Linked DNA regions of Homo sapiens: region 1 is linked to region 2. Evidence: fine-mapped expression QTL. A gene starts in region 2. The other region holds a variant in brackets. All regions are shown on one strand. Distances are from middle to middle. Region 1 has its middle 22 kb from the start of C1D. Region 2 holds the start of C1D (C1D nuclear receptor corepressor).

Region 1 (5,531 bases), 22 kb after region 2:
GATCCTTTCTAAATAGGTGGTATTTACTTTATGTCCTTAATTGTAAACCAATGAATGAATGAACAGTATAGCTGAACATTGAGTACATAACGTTTGTCTTTATCTAAACATTTGCCTTAAACCCTAATCAATTTATTAATTATGCTTACATAATAAACCTTGACCTAGATCAAAATAACATAGTAGGCAGGAAAAACAGGAGAGAATTCCAAAGACTTGTGGCTTGAAAGACAGTGGGACTTGTTGAGATCACCACATTTATAAGTCCAAACCCCATATCCCTACATTAATTTGTAAACAACTCCTAGAATTGTGTCCCCACAAAAGATGTTGAAGTCTTAACATCCAGTACTTGTGCATGTGACCTTATTTGGAAATAGGGTCTTCACAGAGGTAATCAAGTCAAATAAAGTCATTAGGGTAGACTCTAACCCAATATGACTGGTATTCTTATTAAAAGAGCAAATTTGGACACAGAGACAGACATGAACATGGGGAGAATGCCATTGAACATGAAGGCAGAGATTGGGGTGATGATTCTACAAGTGAAAGAACACCAAAGATTGCCAGCAAACCACAAGTTATGAGAAAGGCATGAACAGATTCTCTCTCAGCCCTCAGAAAGAACCAATCCTGCTGACACCTTAATATTAGATTTTGGGCCTCCAGAACTGTGAGACCACACATTTCTGTTGCTTAAGCCAGGGGTCCCCAACTCCTGAAACTAGTCCGTGGCCTGTTAGGAACTAAACTGCACAGCAGGAGGTGAGCAGCAGGTGAGTAAGTGAAGCTTCTTCTGTATTTACAGCTGCTCCTCACCACTTTCATTACCACCTGAACTCCACCTCCTGTCAGATCAGCAGCACCATTAGATTCTTATAGGAGCATGGACCCTATTGTGAACTGTGCATGCAAGGGATCTAGGTTGTATGCTCCTTATGGGAATCTAATGCCTGATGATCTGTCAATGTCTCCCATCACCTGCAGATGGGACCATCTAGTTACAGGAAAACAATCTCAGGGCTCTCACTGATTCTACGTTATGGTGAGTTGTGTAATTATTTTATTATATATTACAATGTAATAATGATAGAAATAAAGTACACAATAAATGCAATGCACTTGAATCATCCCAAAACCATCCCCCACCAACCCAGTCCATGGAAAAATTGTCTTCCATGTAACCAGTCCCTGGTGCCAAAAAGGTTGGGGACTGCTGTTATAGACTACACAGGTGACTGAAAGAGGAAGTTTAGGCTAAAAACCAGTGCGGTGTGTATACACACCAAATGTATTGAAAGCTGAGAATATATCATGAGGAACCAAGGAGGAAAGTGCTTTAGGTCATCAGATTTTTTTAAAATAGTTTTTTCAAGATTAATTTACATACAATAAATTGCATACATTTCAACTGTGCAATTCAATGAGTTTTGACAAACATGTAGACCATCCCAATCAAGCTATAAAACATTTCCCAGAAAGTTCACTTTTGCGTTTTCCAGCCAATCCCCTCTACAGCTATGGCTGCCAACCACTACGCTTCTATTACTGTAGATTGATACTGCCAGTTCTAGAACTTCACGTAAATAGATTTACACAATAGGCACTATTTTGTCTGTCTTCTTTCACACAGAATGATGGGTTTTTTTGTTTGTTTTCTTTCTTTTCCAAGACTATTTCTTAGTGTGAACAGCATGATTTTTTTTTGAGTGAATAAATGAGTCAAAAAGCTATGAACATTCAGGTACAAGTCTTTGTATGAACATATATTTTCCTTTCTCTTTGGTAAATACCTGAGAGTAGAATAGCTGGGCCACATGGTAAGTGTATGTTTATTTTTATAAGAAACTGTCAAACTGTTTTCTAAAGTAGCCATACCATTTTATACGACTACCTTTCCTACATCAAGGGTCAACAAACTTTTCCTGTGAAAGGCCAAAGAGTAAATAAACATGTTAGGCTTTGTGGGCCACGTATGGTGTCAGTTACATGTCCTTCTTTATTTTACAACACTTTAAAACTGTAAAAATAATTCTTAACTCAAGTGCCATACAAAAGCAGGCCATGGGTTAGACTTGGCTCCAATGAAAATTCTGTATCAAGTCGGGATTCAACCAGAAAAACAGGACCACCAGAAGATATATCTAGAATTAGGGATTCGTTACAAGAGTTTGGCAGCATGTAATTGTTAGAAGCTGGTTAAAAGTTTTGCTATTTTCTAAGGTTGTTGTCTCTATATCTTGTCCTGGAGTTTGAAATTCACAGGGCAGGCCATCAGGAGGGAAGATGGATGTACAGTGGGGGAGGTTAGGAATAGACTGGACTTCACACATCAGTTGAAGACCATGAGGAGAGACTGACACCTGTGTCAGTTCTTGTTGCCACTGACCTTGGTAGTGTGGGTATCTGACAGAAATCAGAACCTTCAACCACACCCTCACCAACACTTGGCATGGTCAGTTTGTAGATTTTAGCCATTGTATTGAGTGTATACTGATATCTCATTTTGGCTTTAATTTGCATTTCCATGACAAGTAATGATGCTGAGAATATTTTCATGTGTTATTGGCCATTTGTAGGTCATCAGATTTTAAGGGTACTTTTCTTTTCTTTTCTTTTCTTTTCTTTTTGATAAAGCAATATGAGGTCAAGAATAGCTCTACATGGCTGGGTACAGTGGCTCACGCCCGTAATC[G/A]CAGCACTTTGGGAGGCTGAGCCGGGCAAATTGCTTGAGCTCAGGAGATCAAGACCAGCTTGGACTACATAGCAAAACATAGTCTCTGCAAAAAATAAAAATTAAAAATTAGCCCAGTGTGGTGGTGGGCACCTGTAGTCCCAGCTACTTGGGAGGCTAAGGCAGAAGGATCACTTGAGCTTGGGAGGTTGAGGCTACAGTGAGCCGAGACTGAACCACTGCACTGTAGCCTGGGAGACAGAGCAAGACCCTGTCTCAAAAAAAATAAATAAGTAAAAATAGAAGAGCTCTACAGCTTATTTCAAAAAGCTACTTAGCATTTGGAGTCTTAGTTATCTTCGACATTGCTAGACTGACAGTTAAACACCTGAGCAATATCATCAGGTAGGCCTGGGTCAAACCCTGACCCTGCTGCCTCCTGGCTGTGTGATCTTGGGCCAGTTCCTTAACTTCTCTCAGCTTCAGCTTCTAAATGTATAAAACAATACCTACCCCATAGGTTGATTATGAAGCATGAATGAGATAAGATCAAGTCACTATTTGGGGATTCACACAATATGTTCACATAGATATCACAATCCTTTACAGCCTGGTACAGAGTAGACGCTCAATCAATGGTAGCACATTGTTCTGTGTCTGAAATTTAAACTTCCACCATTGGGATTGTGGAGAGAAATTTAAGAAGGGAAAGACAGTTGTCTCTCCAAAAATGCTGTAGCTGTGGTAGTACACATTTGTTGTTGTTGTTATTGCTGTTGTTACGCTTTCTTTTATCCCTTTTCTTCCTTCTGGATTCAGTGTCCTTCATAAAGTACATCCTTTAGAAGCTCTTTCAGAGAGGGTTTATGAATGGCACACTCTCAAAGCCTTTATTTGAAAGTGTCTTCATTACACTCTGTCATACAAGAGTGAGGACATAATAAAGACCCTTTTACATTTTTATTCTGTATCATACTGTGATTCCAAGAAGAGACTCAGCTCATTAAAAATGACTGCTTCAGCTTCAAGAAACCACATGTTTTAGTTAGGTGAAGCAAGTACTTTTAATTGTTGTTGGCACTGTCATTTACACCCTTTTAAGTGGATCTACCATCTCAAGGAATAAATTTGTTCAAATTTATGTTAAGGAAATTCATCCTTAGTAAGCAAGTACTGAATAATGATGGAAAATATGACCTGTTTGCCAGAAATATTCTGCAGGTTTCAGGTTTCCACTGCCCATCAGAGGCAGCATTGGGCAAGGTGTATTCAGCCTTTGCAGAATAGATGAACTTCCTAGAATACAGCTGACCTGGTTTGTATACCTTATCCATGCAGTGAAACAACGTGGTTAGAAAATAAAACCACCACTGAGAATACACAAATGCAGTGGTTCTCAAACTCGAGCATGCACCAGGACACGGAGGGCTTGCCGCAACACAGCTTGCTGCCCTGTCACCCCAGAGTTTCTGATTCATCAGGTGTGGGGCAGGTTGCTGAGAATTTTCACTTCTGACAAGTTCCCAGGTGACAGTGACACCTGGTTCAGGACAACATTTTGAGACCCAAAGATCTATGGTATTTAAATAAACTGTGGCCATCTATGCTGATCATCAGAATTTAACAGACCTAAGTTCTTTTTGGTTTCAGGATGTAGATAAGTTCTCTCCCTGATATTGATCACTACTGAAAATAATGGAGGAAATGTTTTCAGTAAGAAAAATCATTGCCTATTTGGAAAATTATTTGAAATCAGTTATTAAGGCTTGAAGATCAACTTACTATTTGGGTTTCACATAGTATGAACAATCGTAATGAAAATGACACATTGAGCGAATGTTGAAAAAGCTACTAGAAAATATGTCTTTAAAATGAGACTATAGGCCGAGTGCAGTGGCTTACACCTGTAATCTCAGCATTTTAGGAGGCTGAGGCATGCAAATTGCTTGAACTCAGTTCAAGACCAGCCTGGGCAACATGGTAAAACTTTTGTCTCTACAAAAAAAAAAAAAAATTTAGCCAGGCGTGGTAGCTCATGCCTGTAGTCCTGTAGTCCCAGCTACTGGGGAGGCTGAGGTGGGAGGATCACTTGAGCCCAGGAGGTCCAGAGGTTGCAATGAGCTGAGATCTGCCACTGCACTCCAGCCCGGGCAACAGAGCCAGACCCCGTCATAAAAAAAAAAAAAAAAAAAGACAGAGAGAGACTATATAAATAAGTCAATCTTACTCATTTATCTTTGGAATAAATATTCTGGGCTATAGCAGAACTTCAGGCCTGAAGTAGGTTAAAAATATAAATTAACAAATTTAAACAGAAATTTTTTTACTTTCTCCTACTTTTTGTCCTTGTCTTTACCTTTCTTTTCATGGTGCACCTTTTGTTTTCTGCTCTTTCTCTTTTGGCTCCACTTTACTAAATACTTCCAATGTTTTTTTTTTCCTTTTCTAGGGTTTGATATGTAGTACTACATACCAAATAAACAAACAGGATAGACTCCTTAAAGGAATCTGTTTCAAACAGCCAGACTTACTGGGTTTGAATGAAGTCCATGTGTCCTCTGCATGGATCTGAATAACTTTTCCAGTCTAATGCTATTATGATGTCAAGTGGAAATGGCTTCTCCAACCCACCCCATCTTAATGAGATCCTGACCCTCTGTGCTTATCTAATAGTGTGTATCACACAAAGTTAAGCTGCATGTATTTAGCCTACACATTCATTCGAAGGGGAATAGCGAAGTCATCGGAGCAGGGCTGAACTATGAAAAGAACAATTCCTTGTGTTTAAAGGAGCACAGAGATTACATTGATTAGCTGGCTCAACCTCTGGCAATTGCATTTTACCACTGTCAAAGCA
Region 2 (5,000 bases):
AGTCAGGCTGGGCGCAGTGACTGACGCCTGTAATCCCAGCACTTTAGAAGGCTGAGACAGGCGGATCACCTGAGGTCAGGGGTTCGAGACCAGCCTGGCCAACATGGTGAAACCCTAACTCTACTAAAAACACAAAAAATTAGCTGGGCATGGCGACGGGTGCCTGTAATCCCAGCTACTCCGGAGGCTGAGGCAGGAGAATCGTTGGAACCCAGGAGGCGGAGGTTGCAGTGAGCCGAGATTGTGCCACTGCACTCCAGCCTGAGCAACAGAGTGAGACTCCAAAAGAAAAGAGGGGCGAGATGGGGTGGGGCAGGGCGGGCAAGGGCAGAGCAGGGCAGGAAAGGAAACAAAAGAAAACAAAAGACAATAAAGTAAAATAAAATAAAATAAAACAAACCTAAGTCAGATCATGTCACTCCTCTCCTCCTACCTTTCCATTGGTTATTTACTCACTGGGCTATTGCTCAAGGGAAGATTCATGTCGAGGCACATTTTGAACTCCACATCACTAACATAATGTCTTGTCATGTATTAGTTAGTTAGCAACTATTTGTTTACTAACTAAAACCAATCAAAGTAACCTAAGACGTAATTTTGGAAACTCTTAATATCAGATTACAGTTTGAGCTTACAGATACTAGAAAGTCACCACATGGATCCAAACAAACATACGATAATGTACATTCCAGGGCTCTTCCCATCTCTACACCAAATAATTATACACAGTTATGAACTAAGCCAAAGAACAAATCCAACATGATTGTTTTTTGGAATTTGAGAGCCATTTGCTGTTGTTGCACCAGAATTCTATTACTGTAATGAATTACTGTAATGACTTTTTCGCACTGCATTATCTTAGGAGAAAATAACAATGAAATGTACACACAAGTTCTCAATAAATATTGCTGTCTTGGGCAAACAGTGACTCCATGTTAGTGTTGTCTGTAACTCTCCTTCAGTCCCACAGTACAATTCCTGAGTAAATATAGACTTCTTCCTTTTCTAAAAAATATATTAACATCTAAAAATAAATTTATCCCAAAGTCTAATAGGAGAGTATATAAATTACGAGGATATTGCTCAAGATTGAGATGAACAATTACATTAAATTAAATTCACTTCTATTCAAAGTTTAATTCAAAGCATTTCCAAAATTACAGCAATCAAGCAGCAAAATTACCTTCCAAAACATATGGAAGTTGATTATTACAATTATCTTATTTCTGAAATAAGAGTATATAGTGTTGTTGCACAGATTAAATAAACTAGATAAAAGCCATTAGAACGGGGCCTGGCTCAGTTAGCACTCAATACATTAGATAGTATTTTACTAAAAGTGAAAATTACCAAATACTCTAATCCAATGTGAACTATTTAGAGCCATGCTTGAAGGGTCAACTTTGGAAACAGTAGCTGAGATAATACATATGAAGAGCCATTTGAAAAGGTAAAAGCAGTTAAGAAAAAAATTACATTACTTTTGAACTGTGATACATACAACACAGCTAACTGAAGGCAGCTGTAGTATCTTTTGACTGAGAATTTTATTTTGAAAAACCGTTATTCACACTTGTCACTATCTTTCAACAAAACAATGAGTTCTATCATTTCCACCAAACACAAACATTTCTCTGTACTTCAATAGGGCTAATCTGTTGTTTTTGAATCAAAAATACAGAGTTAAATAACTAAAAGTATAACTGGATTGTTTGTAACACAAAGGATAAGTGCCTGAAGGGATGGATACCCCATTTTCCATGTGATTCTTACATATTGCATGCCTGTATCAAAACATCTCGTGTACCCCATAAATATATACACCTATGTACCCACAAAATTTTTAAATTTAATTTTTTAAAAAATCACGGTTAAGTCTTGGTTCAGTCCACCATCAGACAGTCCTAATAGGTTAATAAGTGGATAGCAAACATCTCATTGCGACAAATACATCTTTATCAAGCCAAAACTGAACTGTAGTCAGCAAACATTGAGGACATTAAAGCTATTTTGAAACAAGTTTGAGTTACACTGAACTTATCCGGGTCATCAAGAAAAACTGCTCTCTTGGATTACCCACTACAGATTTCAGCTAAAGGTCGAAATTAGCCCACTATCTCAGATGAGCTAATACTGCAGCAGCAGGCAGTCTGTGAATGTGAATGATAAACGGAGCTAACACAGTAAAGTTACTCCCCTAGACGTTCCACTTTAGCCTCTCTCCCTAAGCAAGATTGAAAACAGCTGAAAATTGTGAAGACTTCAATGTTTTTTGATTTTTGTTTTTAATTTCTTCGTCTTCCAAGATTTGAGAAGGGGGTGGTTAACAAACGAAGAAAAAGAGAGAGACCGGAGCAAAAGAGAGAAATGAGGGGCCGGGGTAAGCCAAAGCCTGCAAGCAGCCCCAAAACAAGCGGAAGTGGGGGACCTGCCAACAATGCTGCCCCAACGAAGAGCTGTGAGAGACTGCATTCCTGGAAGGCTACGCAGCCAAACTCCGATTTTCTCAGTCTGCCCAGAGGATGACAGGGGAATCCCAGGAGAGGAAAAGCGGAGTTAAACAGGAGCAGGAGAAAAACTGAAACTACACCTTAGAAAAATACCTCACGGCCTTCGACTCCAGTCTCCCGGAAAGCGGTCGGGCAACGATGACGACAATGACGCGCCGGCTCTGCCCCCGCCACGAGCGGCGCTTCCCGATGATCTCACGCTGCTCGCCACGCCCCCTGCTCCTTAACTCTTCTCCAAAGGCAAATCTCATTTTGAGTAGCTCAGACCCATGTTGTGGGAGACGATTGCGGCGGCACTCGGAACTTTTGTCTACCTTTGTACCCGGCTAACACTCACCCCAAATACAGGTTGAGTGTATTTAACCAGGAAAAAAATCTTAGTTATCGAAACTTTGTTCGGGTTTTTACTTTCCCAGAAGCTTTTTTCAGGGCCCTCATTCTTTCTACCCTTTTATTGTCTGCCTCTAGATGAGCCTCTTAGAGCAGCTTCCCAGATTATCCGTGGGGAAGAACAGGTTCTTTATTAGATTATCCGTGGGGAAGAATGGGTTCTTTATTTTTCCAATCTGTCAGTAAAAGGTACTTCTATAAAATACAGTAAAAATGAATTAGTAGAAAAATGGGGAAAATATGTGCAAAATACAAGCCCAAATTTTTTATTAGTTTCAAATAAATGTAAAATTGCATTTCAATGTATGCAATCAGAACAAACATAATAGAAAATAAAGGCATTAACAGAAACTGTACATACTGTTCATTGAAAGTGTAGTATAAGCGATTGAGCATTGTCTTAACATTTGTAACTTGTCATTCCACGGCTGTAATTTGATAAAAAGTTATGCATGAAACAGTTGTCCGTATATTAAATGCATGTAAAAGCATTTTGAACAAGCACCATGTATGTAATATTTAAAGTTTTGGGGGAGGTTCCAAAGTGGCCGAATAGGAACAGCTCCAGTCTACAGCTCCCAGCATGAGCAACGCAGAAGATGGGTGATTTCTGCATTTCCAACTGAGGTACCGGGTTCATCTCACTGGGGCTTCTCAGACACTGGGTGCAGCCCACAGAGCAGGGCGAGGCATGACCTCACCCGGGAAGCACAAGGGATCAGGGAATTCCCTTTCTTAGCAAAGGGAAGCCATGATAGACGGTACCTGGAAAATTGGGACACTCCCATCCTAATACTGTGCTTTTCCAACGGTCTTAGCAAACGGCACACCAGAAGATTATATCCCGTGACTGGCTCAGAGGGTCCCACGCCCACGGAGCCTGGCTCACTGCTACCACAGCAGTCTGAGATCAAACTGCAAGGCAGCAGCGAGGCTGGGGGAGGGGCGTCTGCCATTGCTGAGGCTTAAGTAGATAAACAAAGTGGCCAGGAAGCTTGAACTGGGTGGAGCCCATCGCAGCTCAAGGAGGCCTGCCTGCCTCTGTAGACCCCACCTCTGGGGGCAAGGCATAGCTGAACAAAAGGCAGCAGAAAGTTCTGCAGACTTAAATGTCCGTCTGACAGCTTTGAAGAGAGTAGTGCTTCTCCCAGCACGGAGTTTGAGATCTGAGAACGGACAGACTGTCTCCTCAAGTGGGTCCCTGACCCCCGAGTAGCCTAACTGGGAGACACCTCCCAGCAGGGGCCAACTGACACCTCATACAGCTGGGTGCCCCTCTGAGATGAAGCTTCCAGAGGAAGGATCAGGCAGCAATATTTGCCATTCTGCAATATTTGCTGTTCTGCAGCCTCCGATGGTGACACCCAGGCAAACAGGGTCTAGAGTGGACCTTCAGCAAACTCCAACAGACCTGCAGCTGAGGGTCCTGACTGTTAGAAGGAAAACTAACAAAAAGAAAAGACATCCACACCAAAAACCCATCTGTACGTCACCATCATCAAAGACCAAAGGTAGATAAAACCACAAAGATGGGGATAAATCAGAGCAGAAAAGCCGAAAATTCTAAAAATCAGAGCGCCTCTTCTCCTCCAAAGGAATGCAGCTCCTCACCAGCAATGGAACAAACCTGGACAGAGAATGACTTTGACAAATTGAGAGAAGAAAGCTTCAGACGACTGGTAATAACAAACTTCTCCGAGCTAAAGGAGGATGTTTGAACCCATTGCAAAGAAGCTAAAAACCTTGAAAAAAGATTAGACGAATGGCTAACTAGAATAAACAGTGTAGAGAAGTCCTTAAATGACTGATGGAACTGAAAATCGTGGCACGAGAAGAACGTGACGCATGCACAAGCTTCAGTAGCCGATTTGATCAAGTGGAAGAAAGAGTATCAGTGATTGAAGATCAAATGAATGAAATGAAGCAAGAAGAGAAGTTTAGAGAAAAAAGAGTAAAAAGAAATGAACAAAGCCTCCAAGAAATATGAGACTTTGTGAAAAGACCAAATCTGCATCTGAATTGTGTACCTGAAAGTGACTGGGAGAATGGAACCAAGTTGGAAAACACTCTTCAGGATATCATCCAGGAGAACTTCCCCAA

Evidence for each region. PIP is the estimated chance that this variant, and not a neighbour inherited with it, causes the effect. A credible set is the group of variants that fine-mapping cannot tell apart.
Region 1: its variant is the best candidate, but not a certain one, in a credible set for the expression of C1D in whole blood (INTERVAL, PIP 0.69).

What each region holds. Positions count from the first base shown.
Region 1 is chr2:68,082,281-68,087,811 of GRCh38, forward strand. No RefSeq gene overlaps it. Among named protein-coding and RNA genes, the nearest start is that of C1D, 22 kb to the left of the region's middle. The variant G/A (reference allele first, on the strand shown) is at 2,696.
Region 2 is chr2:68,060,355-68,065,354 of GRCh38, forward strand. It overlaps C1D (C1D nuclear receptor corepressor), which reads right to left and starts at 2,650. Exons shown (of 5, transcript NM_173177.3): 1 at 2,604-2,650. RefSeq lists enhancers at 2,218-3,417, 2,339-2,748, 2,501-3,001.